Linked DNA regions of Homo sapiens: region 1 is linked to region 2. The links come from fine-mapping of genetic effects on gene expression. Tissue or cell type: whole blood. Region 2 holds a variant in brackets; the other region holds the start of a gene. All regions are shown on one strand. Distances are between the middles of the regions.

Evidence for each region. PIP is the estimated chance that this variant, and not a neighbour inherited with it, causes the effect.
Region 1: it holds the start of UCK1, and the variant in region 2 is fine-mapped to the expression of UCK1 in whole blood (TOPMed, PIP 0.98).

What each region holds. Positions count from the first base shown.
Region 1 is chr9:131,527,241-131,535,258 of GRCh38, reverse strand. It overlaps UCK1 (uridine-cytidine kinase 1), which reads left to right and starts at 3,996. Exons shown (of 7, transcript NM_031432.5): 1 at 3,996-4,192; 2 at 4,614-4,773; 3 at 5,675-5,771; 4 at 5,989-6,131; 5 at 6,221-6,315. The coding sequence starts at 4,085. RefSeq lists silencers at 3,591-3,760, 3,901-4,260, 4,461-4,510 and enhancers at 3,926-4,839, 5,545-6,744.
Region 2 is chr9:131,562,396-131,570,654 of GRCh38, reverse strand. No RefSeq gene overlaps it. Among named protein-coding and RNA genes, the nearest start is that of PRRT1B, 21 kb to the right of the region's middle. RefSeq lists an enhancer at 2,068-2,567. The variant G/A (reference allele first, on the strand shown) is at 3,326.

The DNA of each region.
Region 1 (8,018 bases), 35 kb after region 2:
GCTGAGGCAGGCGAATCACTTGAACCTGGGAGGTGGAGGTTGCAGTGAGCCAATATCGCGCCACTGCACTTCAGCCTGGGAGACAAAGTGAGATTCCGTCTCGAAAAACAAACAAACAAAAAAAAAACCCACACCACCAAACCTTGTTTAGCCTCTCGTTCCGTTATCTAGAACAGCCATGTCAGACCAGAAGGGCACACCCCAGAACTCAAAACCATGCTTTTCCCTGGGTGAGGAGTAAGGGGTGGTTCTAGTTTTGGTTGTGTGTTTGTGTGTATACATTTTCTGCAATCAGCAGGAGTCACTTTTATGATTACAGGGAAAAGGGCAATCAATACTTAAAACAGCAGGCACCTGCTTATCTCTTTAAGCGCTGAGAGCCAGCTAGTGTTCAATAAAAGCTTCAGGACATGCTTGGCATGAGCTGACATTTTTGTAGTGGTTAGGGTGGCTTGAAGGAGGAGGGAGGAGGGCAGCCATGGAGAGCGGTGTTTCCTGTACTGCATGTGTTTGAGGGGGCAGGGGGAGCAGTTTTAGATTCACAGAAAAATTGAGCAGAAGGTGCAGAGATTTCCTATATACTCCCCACTCCCCCACATGCACAGCCTCCCCGATTTTCAACATCCCGCACCAGAGAGCAGGTAAGAGAATGAATCCAGAGTAGACAGTGGTCACTCTTAGGAGTACTGCCTTGCCTGGCTCTGGGAAACCCAAACTCCGAGGGCTCCAAGCCTCCACCCAACTCTCCACCTACCCCCACCCCCCAATTCAGCAACAACGTTTTTTTGTTTTTTTTTTTTTTTTTGGAGACAGGGTCTCGCTCTGTTACCCAGGCTGTAGCGCAGCGGCGCGATTTCTCTTCAATGCAACCTCTGCCTCCCAAGCTCAAGCAATCCTCCCATCTCAGCCTCCCCAGTAGCTGGGACCACAGGCCTATGCCACCACACTCAGCTAGTTTTTATTTTTTTCTTTTTTTGCAGACAGAAAAAAAAGTGCAGTGGCACGATCTCAGCTCATTGCAACCTCTGCCTCCTGGGTTCAAGTTCTCCTGCCTCAGCCTCCTGAGTAGCTGTGATTACAGGCGCATGCCAACATGCTCGGCTTATTTATTTACTTATTTATTTATTTATTTTTGCCCAGGCTGCAGTGCAGTGGCGTGATCTCGGCTCACTGCAATCTCCGCCTCCCAGGTTCAAGCGATTCTCCTGCCTCAGCCTCCCGAGTAGCTGGGATTACAGGCGCCCGCCACTGTGCTCAGCTAATTTTTTGTATTTTTAGTAGAGACGGGGTTTCACTATGTTGGCCAGGCTAGTCTTGAACTCCTGACCTCGTGAGTCGCCTGCCTCAGCCTCCCAGAGTGCCGGGATTACAGGCGTGAGCCACCGTGCCCGGCCAATTTTTGTATTTTTAGTAGAGATGGAGTTTCACCATGTTGGCCAGGCTGGTCTCGAACTCCTGACCTCAAGTGATCCGCCTGCCTCGGCCTCCCAGAGTGCTGGGATTACAGGCGTGAACCACTGCACCCGGCTGACTCATGCTTCTTTAAGGACACTCTTCGGCTGGGCACAGAGGCTCACACCTGTAATCCCAGCACTTTGGGAGGCTGAGGCAGGTGAATAGGAGTTCGAGACCAGCCTGGGCAACATGGCAAAACCCTGTCTCTATACTAAAAATACAAAAATTAGTCGGGCCTGGTGGCAGGTGCCTGTAGTCCCAGCTACTCGGGGAGGCTGAGGCAGGATAATTGCTTGAACTCGGGAGGCGGAGGTTGCGGTAAGCCAAGATTATGCCACTGCACTCCAGCCTGGGCAACAGAGCAAGATTCCGTCTCAAAACGAACAAAAAAAACCCATAAAAGTCACTCTTCTTCACAATATGGGGAGTTGGGGACCAGCTAGAGGTTTGGGGCTGGCCCTCTGCTTGGTGGTGGTTGGGATGGTCCCATAGGGGAGCCACTGTGGCCCAGAGGCCTGAGCCGTGTGGGCCCGGGCCTTGTTTACTGGACTGTGGGCTTCCTGGGTGCTGGGCCTGCTCCCAGGGAGTGGCTCCTTCCCAAAGCGTCCCTTTGCCTTGGGAGCGGAACCACGCAATAGCCTGACTGGCCCTGGCAGCCCATGCCTTGTGGCCAGTCACCAGAGAGGGCACACGAGACCCAGGCCAGGGGTATCAGGGACAGCCCCTGGTCAGACTCTGCTAGTTTCCCTGCCTTTCGCTACGTGGCTGGACCACAGGGGAAGAAATGGCAAGAAACCGTGTCTAACTCTCCCTTGATACAAATTCAAAGTTGGCTTGGGGGATGGCCACCTTTGGGACACACACCTGGACAGATCTAAGCCAGCAGCGTGGCTGTTTGCTAGGCACTGTTCTGTGCCTGGGGCTTAATTTACAGAGGTACGGCTGAATGACCATGAGGAGAGGCCAAAGCCATCGCAAGATTGATCGCATTTCCTGAGAGAAGGGGCACCCATGCCATGCACGGTTCTCAGTAGAGAACCCCAGGTTTGGTCAGGAGGCAGAAGCAGGGGCGAGGGGAGAGCCCAGGCCTGAGGCTTTCTTGGGGTTTCCATGGAAAAGGCCTGGCAGGGCAGGGAAAGAGTTTAAAATTGGCTAGTTTGAGTAATTCTAGCAGGCTCTGGGCTGCAGAGTGGTCTCTAGTCACCTGATACCTGGCCCTGGGTGACTTAGGGCAGGGAGAATCTTGCCTCCAAAGGCGAGAATTAGATAAGGAGGTAGCTGGGGCTGTAGACTTGGGGTCTTTTTTTTTTTTTTTTTTTTTTTTGAGACAGAGTCTCACTCTTTCCCCCAGGCCGGAGTGCAGTAGCGTGATCTTGGCTCACTGCAAGCTCCACCTCCCGGGTTCACACCATTCTCCTGCCTCAGCCTCCCGAGTAGCTGGGACCACAGGCGCCCGCCACCATGCCCGGCTAATTTTTTGTATTTTTAGTAGAGACGGGGTTTCACCATGTTAGCCAGGATGGTCTCGATCTCCTGACCTCGTGATCCACCCGCCTCGGCCTCCCAAAGTGCTGGGATTACAGGTGTGAGCCACCGCGTCCGCCCGGGGTTGTCTGTTTTGTATATGAAAAGCATGCTCTGCCCCGAGCCTTAGCTATCTCTCTCTCTTTTTTATTTTTGAGACGGAGTCTTGCTCTGTGGCCCAGGCTGGAGTGCAGTGGCACCATCTCGGCTCACTGCAACCTCCACCTCCCGGGTTCAAGCGATTCTCCTGCCTCAGCCTCCCAAGTAGCTGGGATTACAGGCGCCCGCCACCACGCCCAGCTGATTTGTTGCATTTTTAGTAGAGGCGGGGTTTCACCGTGTTCGCCAGGATGGTCTCGATCTCCTGACCTCGTGATCTACCCGCCTCAGCCTCCAAAAGTGTTGGGATTACAGGCGTGAGCCACCGCGCCCGGCTGGAAATCCATAATTTCAATGGATCAGAATTTGCCTGTCACGTTCTCTGTGCCAGGCACGGAGCGGGGGGGCGGCAGGGATGGAACCCGGCACATGGGCCTCTGCCTCCTTGGCGCGCTGTAGGCGCGAGCCTAAAGTCATCAGGCGACAGCCCCCGCCACGTTCCGGGGCGCCCCGACGGCTCCAGCAGCGGGTGGGGTGGGAGGCGTCCGGACAGTCCGGAGGCCTCGATGGCCAAGAGGAGCCTGGGCTGGAGGGGGCCAGGCCCGGGGGCGGCCGGGGGAGGGCCCGGGACTGGCGCAGAGGCAGCGCGAGGCAGAGGCAAGCACTCGGACGAAGGCGCAGCCCCAGCCTCGGGGTGCGGAACGGGCACCTTCCGGGCCACTTGAGTCTGAGACCTTGTAGCCGGCTCGAGGCCCGGGCGCAGCAGTCCCTGCCAGCCAGCTTTCGGCGCAATGGGACGCGGGCGCTCCTGGTGTGCCGGCCTCGGGCCCTGCACCCTCACGCATGCGCGGCCCCCCCCCCCCCGGTGGACTACAACTCCCGGCGTGCCCCGCGCGCCTCCCGGAAGTGATCGCTCCGGTTGCCTCCGACCTCGGCGCTGGGCGGGCGCGCCGGGCCTGGGGAAGGGGCGGGCGCGGGGACCCGATGCGCGGGAGCGGAGGCCGAGATGGCTTCGGCGGGAGGCGAAGACTGCGAGAGCCCCGCGCCGGAGGCCGACCGTCCGCACCAGCGGCCCTTCCTGATAGGGGTGAGCGGCGGCACTGCCAGCGGGAAGGTAAGGGGCCGAGCGGGCCGGGGTCTCGCCTCTCGCCGGTGCCTACGGGCGGCCCGGTCCAGAGAGGAGACCCCAGCCCCGGCCGAGGGGCCCCCTGCCAGGCAGGGGCAGGGCGCGGGAGCGAAGGGGCTGCAGGCCGCGATGGGCCGGGGCGGGCTGGGGCGGGCGAGGGGTTGGGGCGCTGGGCCTCGGGGCTCCCCCACAGCCTCTCCGCCGGCCGGGCTCCTCGGAGCCCCAAGTCCGTGCTAACCCCGTTGGGCCCCCGCGGCCCTTCCGCTGAGACCATCCACACCTGTTGGTGTCCTCCCGCCTTCCGAGCATACCCCCCAGGGGGCGGGTGGGTCAGTGTCTCCAGAAGCCGGCCCCGTGCCTGTCACAGGACGAGCGGTTCCAGGCGGGAATCCCGCTTCTGTGTCTCCAGTCGACCGTGTGTGAGAAGATCATGGAGTTGCTGGGACAGAACGAGGTGGAACAGCGGCAGCGGAAGGTGGTCATCCTGAGCCAGGACAGGTTCTACAAGGTCCTGACGGCAGAGCAGAAGGCCAAGGCCTTGAAAGGACAGTACAATTTTGACCATCCAGGTAAATCGCGAGCCCAACGATGTGGGGAGGGCAGACCCCATTCTGGGCGGCCGCTAACCAGCTGCGCTTGGGCCCAAGGTTGGATGGATGCAGACCCGCTTGGGCTGTTCCCCCAACTCGCCACGCAGCCTGCAGTGGAGTTGGCTGCACAGTGAAGTCAGGGGAACTTTGCTGAGTTCTCTGGGCCCTGAGTGTCCCCCCAGGAGCGTGGTTGGAGCCAGTCAGGAAGCCTGTTGCACTGTGGGGAGCCCTGCCCTGCCCTGCCACAACTGTGATCCTGGAGAAATCCTCCCATCTTCCCTTCCCACGTTGGGGCCTTTAGGGCCCTCCACACACACCTCTGCCCACTGTGCCCTCCCGTGCTTTGGGGCAAAGTCCTCAGAGAGGCCAGTGTGGGAGGCGGTAGGTAAACTAGTGCTGGTGGCTTGAAGCTCCGGGCCAGGTAAACGGGCAGATGCGGCAGGGAGACACCTGCCACTGCTAGAAGATTCCACCCTGGCTGGCTGGCATGGTCAGCCTTTTCCCAAGGACTTGTGGGAAGAAGGCCTGCAAAGCCGCAGTCTAACCAGTTAGTCCCAGAAAGAGAGAGAAGCAGAGGCCCAGCCTACCCACCTCCCAGGAAGAGCTGATCAGAAAACCCCTGTGTTCCGGCATCTCAGGGGCACAGAGCTTGGGCAGTGGCACAGCCCGAGAACAGCAAGGACAGGGTCATCCTGTGGTCTGCAGGGCTGCAGAGGGCACTGTTGCTACCAAACATACACTGCCGTAGTCCTAGTCTACCTGTGCTAGGGTTCTCGGTGTCCCCAGCACCCAGCTGTGCTGACCCCAGAGCAGAGAGGGTTCCCTGCTGTCCGCTGCACGAGGGCATCTGCCTGTCTTGCCTTTGTCTCCAACCCTGCAGATGCCTTTGATAATGATTTGATGCACAGGACTCTGAAGAACATCGTGGAGGGCAAAACGGTGGAGGTGCCGACCTATGATTTTGTGACACACTCAAGGTAAGCAGGTGGTTCTAGGGAGGGCCGAGGAGAGGGGCCAGCTAGGACGTCCCCTCGGGCTCACACAGACCTGCCTGGCGGCAGGCCTCCCCCGGTTGGTTTCTGTGGGTCCCCCACCCCTTCCCACAGTCAGTGTCCCTGCAATGGAAGCTGACTGTGTGTGTGGCCTGGAGACCCTGTGTCTGCAGCAGAGCCCCTTTCCCCGTGCGCCCCTCAGGTTACCAGAGACCACGGTGGTCTACCCTGCGGACGTGGTTCTGTTTGAGGGCATCTTGGTGTTCTACAGCCAGGAGATCCGGGACATGTTCCACCTGCGCCTCTTCGTGGACACCGACTCCGACGTCAGGCTGTCTCGAAGAGGTAAGGCGGCCGCGGGCCTCCGTGCCTGCCTGGCCGAGGCTGGCGGCAGGTCCTGAGGTCTGAAGCACGCCTGCCCCTTGCCGCTGCAGTTCTCCGGGACGTGCGCCGAGGGAGGGACCTGGAGCAGATTCTGACGCAGTACACCACCTTCGTGAAGCCGGCCTTCGAGGAGTTCTGCCTGCCGGTACCTGTGCTCGCTGCTTCAGAGCCCATTTTCCCCTTTCACAAGGACACATGGGACCCAGTACTGTGAGAGGGCTTAGTGCTGGGTGACAGTGATCTGATTGAAAAAAAGGAGAAGAATTTGGCTCATTATGGCCACATACCCTGGGAGTAGTTCTCAGCTGTAAAAACATTCTCTGTGCCTGCTCCTCCCTCTGCCTAAAAAAGCCCCATATCTCCCCCACATTCACACTGGCCGCTTCCTCCCTGCCTCAGGCCCTTGCCCAGCGTCCCCATTCAACACTGAAAACCCTCTGCACCCAGCGCCAGCCTCTCTGCCTGCTTCCTTTTTCCGGGGCACTTACCATCATCTGACACGTCCTGGGTGCTTATTCCCCGCAGAGTGGGGAAGCCCAGGAGCACTTTAGTCTGTTCACTGCCAAGGCCGGGATCTGGCCCTCAGAAGGTGCTTCAGAGCTGCTCCTCCAGGGTCTGTGACCCCAGGCTGCTCTGGGCCAGTGCTCTGAAATCTTGGAGTGAGCGCTGTGCCCAGATCCCAGCTGGCTCGCAGAGAGCAGGAACTCCCCGCTGCACACCCACCTGTCTTTTCTCCATTTCTCCATCTTGTGTTTCTGGCTTGGTGGGACTCGTGGCTCTACTCAAATGGGAGTGTTTTGCACGGGAACATTTTGCCTGTTAAGGTAAAAATACAGCACAAAGGAACTGAAACCAAGATTCCTGCCTTTGATAATGTAGGACAAGTAAGTTCTATCTGCTGCTTTTTTTTTTTTTGAGATAGGGTCTCTTTTTGTCGTCTAGGGTGGAGTGCAATGGCACGATCTCGGCTCACTCCAAACTCCACCTCCCAAGTTTAAGCAATTCTCCTGTCTCACCCTTCCGAGTAGCTGGGATTACAGGCGTACGCCACCACACCCAGCTAATTTTTGTATTTTTAGTGGAGATGGGGTTTTGCCATGTTGGCTGGGCTGGTCTCGAACTCCTGGACTCAAGTGACCCACCCACTTTGGCCTCCCAAAATGCTGGGATTGAGCCACTGTGCCTGGCCTTTTTTTAAATTTTATTTTTAATGAGGCAGAGTCTTGCTCTGTTGCCCAGGCTGGAGTACAGTGGTGCAATCACAGCTCACTGCAGTCTTGACCTCCTAAGCTCAAGCGATCCTTCCACCTCAGCAACCCGAGTAGCTGGGCCCACAGGCGTGCACCACCATGCTCGGTTAATTTTTAAATTTTTTGTAGAGATGGGGTCTCCCTGTGTTGCCCAGGCTGGTCTCCATCTCCTGGGATCTAGTGGTCCTCCCACCTCAGCTTCCCAAAGTGCTGAGATTACAGGTGTGAGCCACTATGCCTGGCCTATTGGCTGCTATATAAAGAAAACTTTTGTTTTTTTTTGCATTCATGCTGTCTGAAATTTCTAAAATATAATTTTAAAAGTAAAGTTAACTTGTTTTAGTCTCTCATTCACAGAAAGATATTTGGCAAAAAGTAGGTGATTCGCAGTAAAACTCTGGATATCAAATCTGCCTCAGCGACCTGAGTAGAGGAAGTGCTGTCACCTGCTATGTTCTGGGCCCAGGCCCCAGAGATGTTTTTGGTTGGTTTGTTTGCTTGCTTGTTTTTTGAGACAGGGTCTCCCTCTGCCACCCAGGCCCAAGTGCAGTGGTGAGATCTTGCTTCACTGCAGCCTCCACCTTCCACTCTCAAGTGA
Region 2 (8,259 bases):
CGAAGGCTGAAATTTGGAGTTCTTAAATGTGGCTGTGAATGTGCAGTGCTTAACTATGTTCTAGGAGTGACACAAGCCTGAGAAATTTGGCAAATAATTAGAAAATATAAACAGGACAAATGGAAATTCTAAACCAAAAAATACCTCATATGAAGAACTCAGTGACTGTTTAAGAGCAAAATTAGTGACCTGGAGATAGGTTAGAAGCTGTGGGTGGGCTGGGCACGGTGGCTCACGCCTGCAATCCCAACATTTTGGGAGGTGGAGGCAGGTGGATCACTTGAGGTCAGGAGTTCGAGACCAGCCTGGCCAACATGGTGAAACCCCATATCTACTAAAAATATAAAAATTAGCTGGATGTGATGGCGGGGGCCTGTAATTCCAGCTACTTGGGAGGCTGAGGTAGGAGAATCCGCTTAGAGTCCAAGAGGTGGAAGTTGCAGTGAGCTGAGATCACGCCACTGAACTCCAGCCTGGGAGACAGAGTGAGACTCCATCTCAAAAAAAAAAAAAGACGATGTGGGTAGAATGCAGCATGAAGAGACACAGGATGGAGCAAACCAGGTAGGAGGAGACCCAGGGATAGAAGTCCTGAGGGTAAGTGGACCAGCAGAAAGGAAAAGGTCAGAGCAGAAGCAAGGAATGACTCCCGTGTACATCAGTGTTCACAGCAGGATTATTCACACTGGCCAAAAAGGGGAGAGGACCCAAGGGTACAACAGCTGGTGAAAGGATTAACAAAATGAGGTATTTCCATACAGTGGAACACTTTAGCAATCCAGAGGAATGAGCTGACACATGCTGCAACATGGATGAGCCTTGAAAACATGGACATGGCCAGGCGCAGTGGCTCACGCCTATAATCCGAGCACTTTGAGAGGCCGAGGCATTCAGATCACTTGAGGTCAGGAGTTCGAGACCAACCTGGCCAACATGGTGAAACCCTGTCTCTACTAAAAATACAAAAATTAGCCGGATGTGCTTGCTTGAACCTAGAAGGTGGAGGTTGCAGTGAGCCAAGATCGTGCCACTGCACAGAGTGAGACTCTGACTCAAAAAAAAAAGAAACATGGAGGCCAGGTGGGGTGGCTCATGCCTGTAATCCCAGCACTTTGGGAGGCTGAGGCGAGTGGATCACAAGGTCAAGAGATCAAGACCATCCTGGCCAACATGGTGAAACCCCATCTCTACTAAAAATACAAAAAATTAGCCGGGCATGGTGGCGGGTGCCTGTAGTCCCAGCTACTTGGGAGGCTGAGGCAGGAGAATCACTCGAACCTGGGAGGTGGAGGTTGTCGTTAGCCAAGATTGCACCACTGCACTCCAGCTGGCGACAGAGCAAGACTCCATCTCAAAAAAAAAAAAAAAGAAAAAGAAACATGGACATGAAAGAAGCCAGATGCAAAGGGTGTGTTATCACATGATTCCATTTATATGAAATGTCTAGAAAAAGCAAATTTATAGATACAGAGAGCAGATTCATGGTTGTCTGGAAGTGGAAACAGACGGACTACAAAAAGTGCATGAGGGGCCAGGCACGGTGGCTTACGCCTGTAACCTCAGCGCTTTGGGAGCCCAAGGCAGGCGGATCACCTGAAGTCAGGAGTTTGAGACTAGCCTGGCCAATATGGTGAAACCCCGTCTCTATTAAAAATACAAAAATTACACAGTGGCTCACGCCTGTAATCCCAGCACATTGAGAGGCTGAGGTGAGCAGATCACTTGAGGTCAGGAGTATGAGATCAGCCTGGCAAACAAAGGAAAACCCTGTCTCTACTAAAATACAAAAATCAGCTGGGTGTGGTGGCGGGCACCTGTAGTCCCAGCTACTCAGGAGGCTGAGGAAGGAGAATTGCTTGATCCCAGGAGGTGGAGGTTGCAGTATGCCGAGATCACACCACTGCAGTCCAGCTTGGGCGACAGAGCGAGACTCCCTCTCAGGAAAAAAATATATATATACAAAAATTAGACCGGTGTGGCACACACGGGGCTGTAATTCCAGCAACTCGGGAGGCCAACGCATAAGAATCGCTTAAACCTGGGAGGCGGAGGTTGCAGTGAGCCAAGATCGTGCCACTGCACTCCATCCTGGGTGACAGAGCGAGACTCTGTCTCAAAAGGAGTACATGAACGATCTTTGGGGATGATGGAAACTTAAATATTGGATCACGGTGCTGGTTGCACAATTCTGCAAATTTAAAATAACTGAATCATATACTTAAATGAGTAAATTTTATGATATGTAGATTATACTTCAATGGTTTTCCTAAACCTACTGGCCAATTATCATGTCACTGCTTCTCATGTCCAAGTCCACCCTTCATTACCTGCTCTGCAATGAAGAGGTCTCCTTTGCAGTGGGCATGTTAAGTTCTGTCAATAGAGACGCTGGAGAGACACTGCTGGCGGAAGGCCCTGGCCTTTTGTCCTTGCTCTGGCTCAATGGCTGCTAGAGACATGTGTGGAGACCTGCCCCTACCGCACACCTGTCACTTCGGCCCCAGTGGTGTTATGGTGGCCACCTTGCTGTGGCCGTCCAGGCATGGGTAATGCACACCTCACCCTTGTGCCACCCTGCTGGCCAGCAGGTTCCCAACACCCCAACTCCCAACGCATGCCCGCCCACCAGCCTCAGCCCACCTGCACCTCAAAGGGACTTGCCCAGCCCAGTGAGCCAGCTCTGGCCCCGGGGCCCAGTGAGTGCTACCTCCCAGTAGGCTGCACTCACACCTTCTCCAGTGACTTCTCAATCCCAGCCATGGGGATTGGGCCCTTCTAAGTTTTTTCTTCTTGGGTACTCACCTTCAGCCCTAGAGCATTCTTTAGCACTCACAGTTTCTCTTCTCGTCGGGTTATTCTTTATATTAATCTTTTCCTGTCCAAATTACTCTCTATGTCTCCTGATCAGTCCTTGACTGGAAGCATCAAGCCTTGGATTCCAGAAGCCTTATGAACCCCCAGGCAGGATAATAAATAAGAAGAATACACCAAAGCACAGCATGATGAAGCTTTTGAAAACTAAAGAGAAAAAGAAGTCTTTTTTTTTTTTTTTTTGAGATGGAGTCTTGCTCTGTCACCCAGGCTGGAGTGCAGTGGCGCGATCTCGGCTCACTGCAAACTCCGCCTCCTGAATTCACGCCATTCTCCTGCCTCAGCCTCCTGAGTAGCTGGGACTACAGGCGCCCGCCACCACGCCCGGCTAATTTTTTGTATTTTTAGTAGAGACGGGGTTTCACCGTGTTAGCCAGGATGGTCTGGATCTCCTGACCTCGTGATCCGCCCGCCTCGGCCTCCCAAAGTGCTGGGATTACAGGCGTGAGCCACC[G/A]CGCCCGGCCTGAGAAAAAGGAATCTTTAAGCAATCATACGGGGAAAAAGGGCCCATCACCTTCAAAGGAGCCACAATTAGACTCCTCAACAGACATGATTGAGGCTGGAAGATAAGGGAATGGTATCTTCTTCAAAGCCGAAAGAATAGGACCACGATCCAAAATTCTACGCTCACTGAAAATACCTTTCAAGAATGCAGGTGGCCGGGTGTGGTGGCTCACGCCTGTAATCCCAGCACTTTGGGAGGCCGTGGCAGGTGGATCATGAGGTCAGGAGATCGAGACCATCCTGGCTAACACAGTGAAATGCCGTCTCTACTAAAAATACAAAAAATTAGCCAGGCAAGGTGGCGGGCGCCTGTAGTCCCAGCTACTTGGGAGGCTGAAGCAGGAGAATGGCATGAACCTGGGAGGCCGATCTTGCAGTGAGCCAAGATCGCGCCACTGCACTCCAGCCTGGGCCAAAGTGCGAGACTCCATCTCAAAATAAAAAAAAAAAAAAGAATGCAGGCAAAATCAAGATATTGTGAGATTAAAAAAACAGAAAACTCACCACTGGCAGACCTACACTAAGCAAAGACTCAACTTTCTCAGGCAGAAGTGAAATGATCCCAAATGGAAGATCATACTTGCAGGAGAGAATGAAAGAGCAACAAAAAGAGTGAACAGGTGGATAAATGAACACTCGCTATGTAAAACAGCCATGAAAATGTCTTGTCTGGGCACGGTGGCTCATGTCTGTAACCCAACACTGGGAGGCTGAGGCAGGTGGATCACTTGAGCCCAGGAGTTCAAGACCAGCCTGGGCAAGCAACATGGCAAAACCCCATCTCTACAAAAACTACAAAAATTAGCCAGGTGTAGTGGTGAGTGCCAGTAGTCCCAGCTACCTGGGAGGCTGAGATAGGTAGGAGGATTGCCCAAACCTGGGAAGTGCAGCTGCAGTGAGCCGTGATCGCCACCACTGCACTCCAGCCCGGGCAACAGAGTGAGACCCTGTCTCTAAATAAATAAATAAATAAAAATTAAGTTACAAGTACAGAAAAGTTGAAAGTAAAATTTTGGGGAAAGATACACTTTGCAAATATGGTCCACCAAAAAAAAAAACCCCAAAGCATAGCTATATTAATATCAGAAAAAACAGACTTCAAGGCAAAAGGCATTGCTAGAGTTACAAAGGAAACACTTTGTAAAGATACAAATTACACCCAACAGATTTAACAGTTTCTAAATTTGTATACACCTAATTACATGGCCTCAAAATATGTAAAGCAAAAGCTGACAGTACTACAAGGAGAAATGGATAAATCTATGATTCTAGTGGGAAGTGCTAACACACATCTCCCAAACATATGAGGAATAGAAAACATCAAATCTTAGCCGGGCGGAGTGGCTCATGCCTGTAATCCCAGCACTTGGGGAGGCCAAGGCAAGTGAATTGCAAGGTCAGGAGTTCGAGACCAGCCTGACCAACACAGTGAAACCCTGTCTCTACTAAAAATACAAAAAATTAGCTGGGTGTGGTGGCAGGCGCCTGTAATCCCAGCTACTTGGGAAACTGAGGCAGGAGAATTGCTTGAACCCAGGAGGTGGAGGTTGCAGTGAGCCAAGATGGCGCCACCACACTCTAGCCCAGGAAACAGAGTGAGACTCCATCTCAAAAAAAAAAAAAAAAAAAGGAAAAGAAGAAAAGAAAATGTCAGATCTTATACAACACTTCCAAAAATGAAAATGAGAAACATTTTCAACTCTTTTGATGAGACCAACGTAACTATGATACCGAAACTATAACAAGAACGAAAGTTACCGTCCAATTTCACTCATGAACACAATGCAAAAATCCTAAACAAAATTTTAGCAAAGTGAAATACAGAAAGTATAATAATACATCCTCATCAAGATGAAGTTATTCCAGGAATGAAAAGCTATTTTAACATTTGAAAATTAATATGGTAACATAAGTTACCATATTAATGGATTAAATCTGATCATTTTCTCAGTACACATGAAAATAAAATTCAATATCTATGCATAGTTTTTTAAAACTCTTTGTAAACTAGGAATAGAAGGGTACTTAACCTGAAAAAAAAAAATCTGTTTTTTTAACAAGATGAAATGTTGAAAGCCTTAATTTTGAGACTGGGAAAATGACAAGGTTGCCTGCTGTCAGCACTCCTATTCGGCATTATAATAGGGGTCCCGGCTAGTGCAATAAGGCAAGAAAAATACCCAAGGTGGGTAAGAATTGAAAAGGAAGACAACTCATTATATATAGATAACATTGTGTATAGAAAACCCAACAGAATCTACAGATAAATTATCAGAATTAAGAAGTGAATTTGGGGCTGAGCACTGTGGCTCACACCTGTAATCCCAGCACTTTGGGAGGCTGAGGTGGGAGGATCACATGAGGTCAGGAGTTTGAGACCAGCCTGGCCAACATGGTGAAACCCTGTCTCTACTGAAAATAGAAAAATTAGCCAGGTGTGGTGGAGCACACCTGTAATCCCAGCTACTCAGGAGGCTGAGGCAACTCCAGCCTGGGCAACAGAGTGAGACTCCTTCTCAAAAAAAAAGACAAGTGATTTTGGGGCGTGGTGGCTCATGCCTGTAATCCCAACTGCTTGGGAGGCTGAGACAGGAGAATCCCTTGAGCCCAGGAGTTTGGGGCTGCAGTGAGGTACAGTCACACCACAGTACTCCAACCTGGTTGACACCCTATCTTAAAAAAAAAACAAGGCTGGGCAACATAGGGAGACCCCATCTCTACAGAAAAATAAAAAAATAGCCAGGTGTGGTGGTGCACACCTGTGGTCCTAGCTACTCGGGAGGCTGAGATGGGAGGATCACTTGAGCCAAGGAGGCTAAGAATGCAGTGAGCTGTGATCACACCACTGCACTCCAGCCTTAGTAATAGAGAAAGACAATGTGTCAAATATACATATATATGTATATACATACACATGTATATATATATACACACATATATGTATATATACATATATATGTGTATGTATATACATATATATGTGTATATATGTGTGTGTGTGTGTGCGTGTGTGTGTGTATATATATATATATATAGCCCCATAATGAAGTGTGATAGTGGCAAAGAAATAGGCAAACAGGGCTGGGCGCAGTGGTTCATGCCTGCAATCCCAGCACTTTGGGGAGGCCAAGGCAGGCAGATCGTGAGGTCAGGAGTTCAAGACTAGCCTGGCCAACATAGTGGAACCCCGTCTCTACTAAAAATACAAAAAAATTAGCTGGGCATGGTGGCACGTGCCTGTAGTCCCAGCTTACTCTGGAGGCTGAGACAGGAGAATCTCTTGAACCCGGGAGGTGGAAGTTGCAGTGAGCTGAGATCACGCCATTGCACTCCAGCCTGGGTGACAGAGTGAGACTTCATCTCAAAAAAAAAAAATAATAATAGAGCTCTGGAACCTATTCTAGGCTGGTGGCAGATCTAACTGTGAAAATAAGCAATGAGGCCAGGCACAGGAAGGCAACGGTTGCTCACGCCTGTAATCCTAGCACTTTGGGAGGCAGAGGTGGGCGGATCACTTGAGGTCAGGAGTTCAAGACCAGCCTGGCCAATATGGTGAAACCCTATCTCTACTAAAAATATAAAAATTAGCCGGGCATGATGGCAGGCGCCTATAATCCCAGCTACTTGGGAGGCTGAGGCAGAAGAATCGTTTGAACCTGGGAGGTAGAGGTTGCAGTGAGTCGAGATGGCACCACTGCATTCCAGCCTGGGTGACAGAGCGAGACTCCAACTCAAAAGTTAAAAAAAATAAATAAATAAAAATAAAGCTTCTAAATCTAAAAGACATTATAAGAGCATCTTCATGTCCTATGAGTACAGAAATTTTATTAAGCCACAAAAGCCACTGAAATACTCCTACACACATACTATTTACAAAGGAAAAGATAAGCTTGACTACCTTAAAACTGAGAACTTTTCAGCTGGACACAGTGGCTCACGCCTGTAATTCCAACACTTTGGGAGGTCAAGGCGGGCGGATCACGAGGTTAAGAGATCAAGACCATCCTGGCCAACATGGTGAAATCCTGTCTCTACTAAAAATACAAAAATTAGCCAGGCATGGTGCAGGCACCTGTAATCCCAGCTACTCAGGAGGCTGAGGCAGGAGAATCGCTTGAGCCTGGAAGGTGGACGTTGCAGTGAGCAGAGATTGCACCATTGCACTCCAGCCTGGGTGACAGAGCGAGACTCCATCTCAAAAAAAAAACAAAACTGAGAACTTTTCATCAGATGATACCATTAAGAATGAAAAGGGAGGGAGGCTGAGGCCGGAGAATCACTTGAACCTGGGAGGCGGAGGTTGCAGTGAGCAGAGATCACGCCATTGCACTCCAACCTGGGCAACAAGAGCGAGACTCTGTCTCAAAAAAAAAAAAAAAAGTGAAAAGGGAAGCTACCAAGTGAGAAAGGATGTTTGCAATACTGTATCTAATGTAGGACTCATCCCAAATACATACAGAACTGCTCTAAAACAAAGACAGTCAAACATAAAAATGGGCACAAAACTTGAACAGGCACCTCGTAAAAAGAGATATCCAAATAGCTGGTAAACATGATAAAAGGCTAGGCCAGGTGCAGTGGCTCACACCTGTAATCCTAGCGCTTTGGGAGACCAAGACAGGAGGATTGTTTGAGGCCAGGAGTTCAAGACCAGCCTGGGCAACATAGACTCTTGTCTCTTTAAAAAAAAATTTAAAAATCAGCCAGATGTAGCAGTGCACACCTGTGGTCGCAGCTACTTGGGAGGCCAAAGCAAGAGGATTGCTTAAGCCCAGGAATTCCAGGTTACAGTGAACTGTGAACATGCCACTGCACTCCAGCCTGGGGCAATGGAGTGAGACCCTTGTCTGTATTAAAAAAAAAAAAAAAAAAAAAAAAAAAACA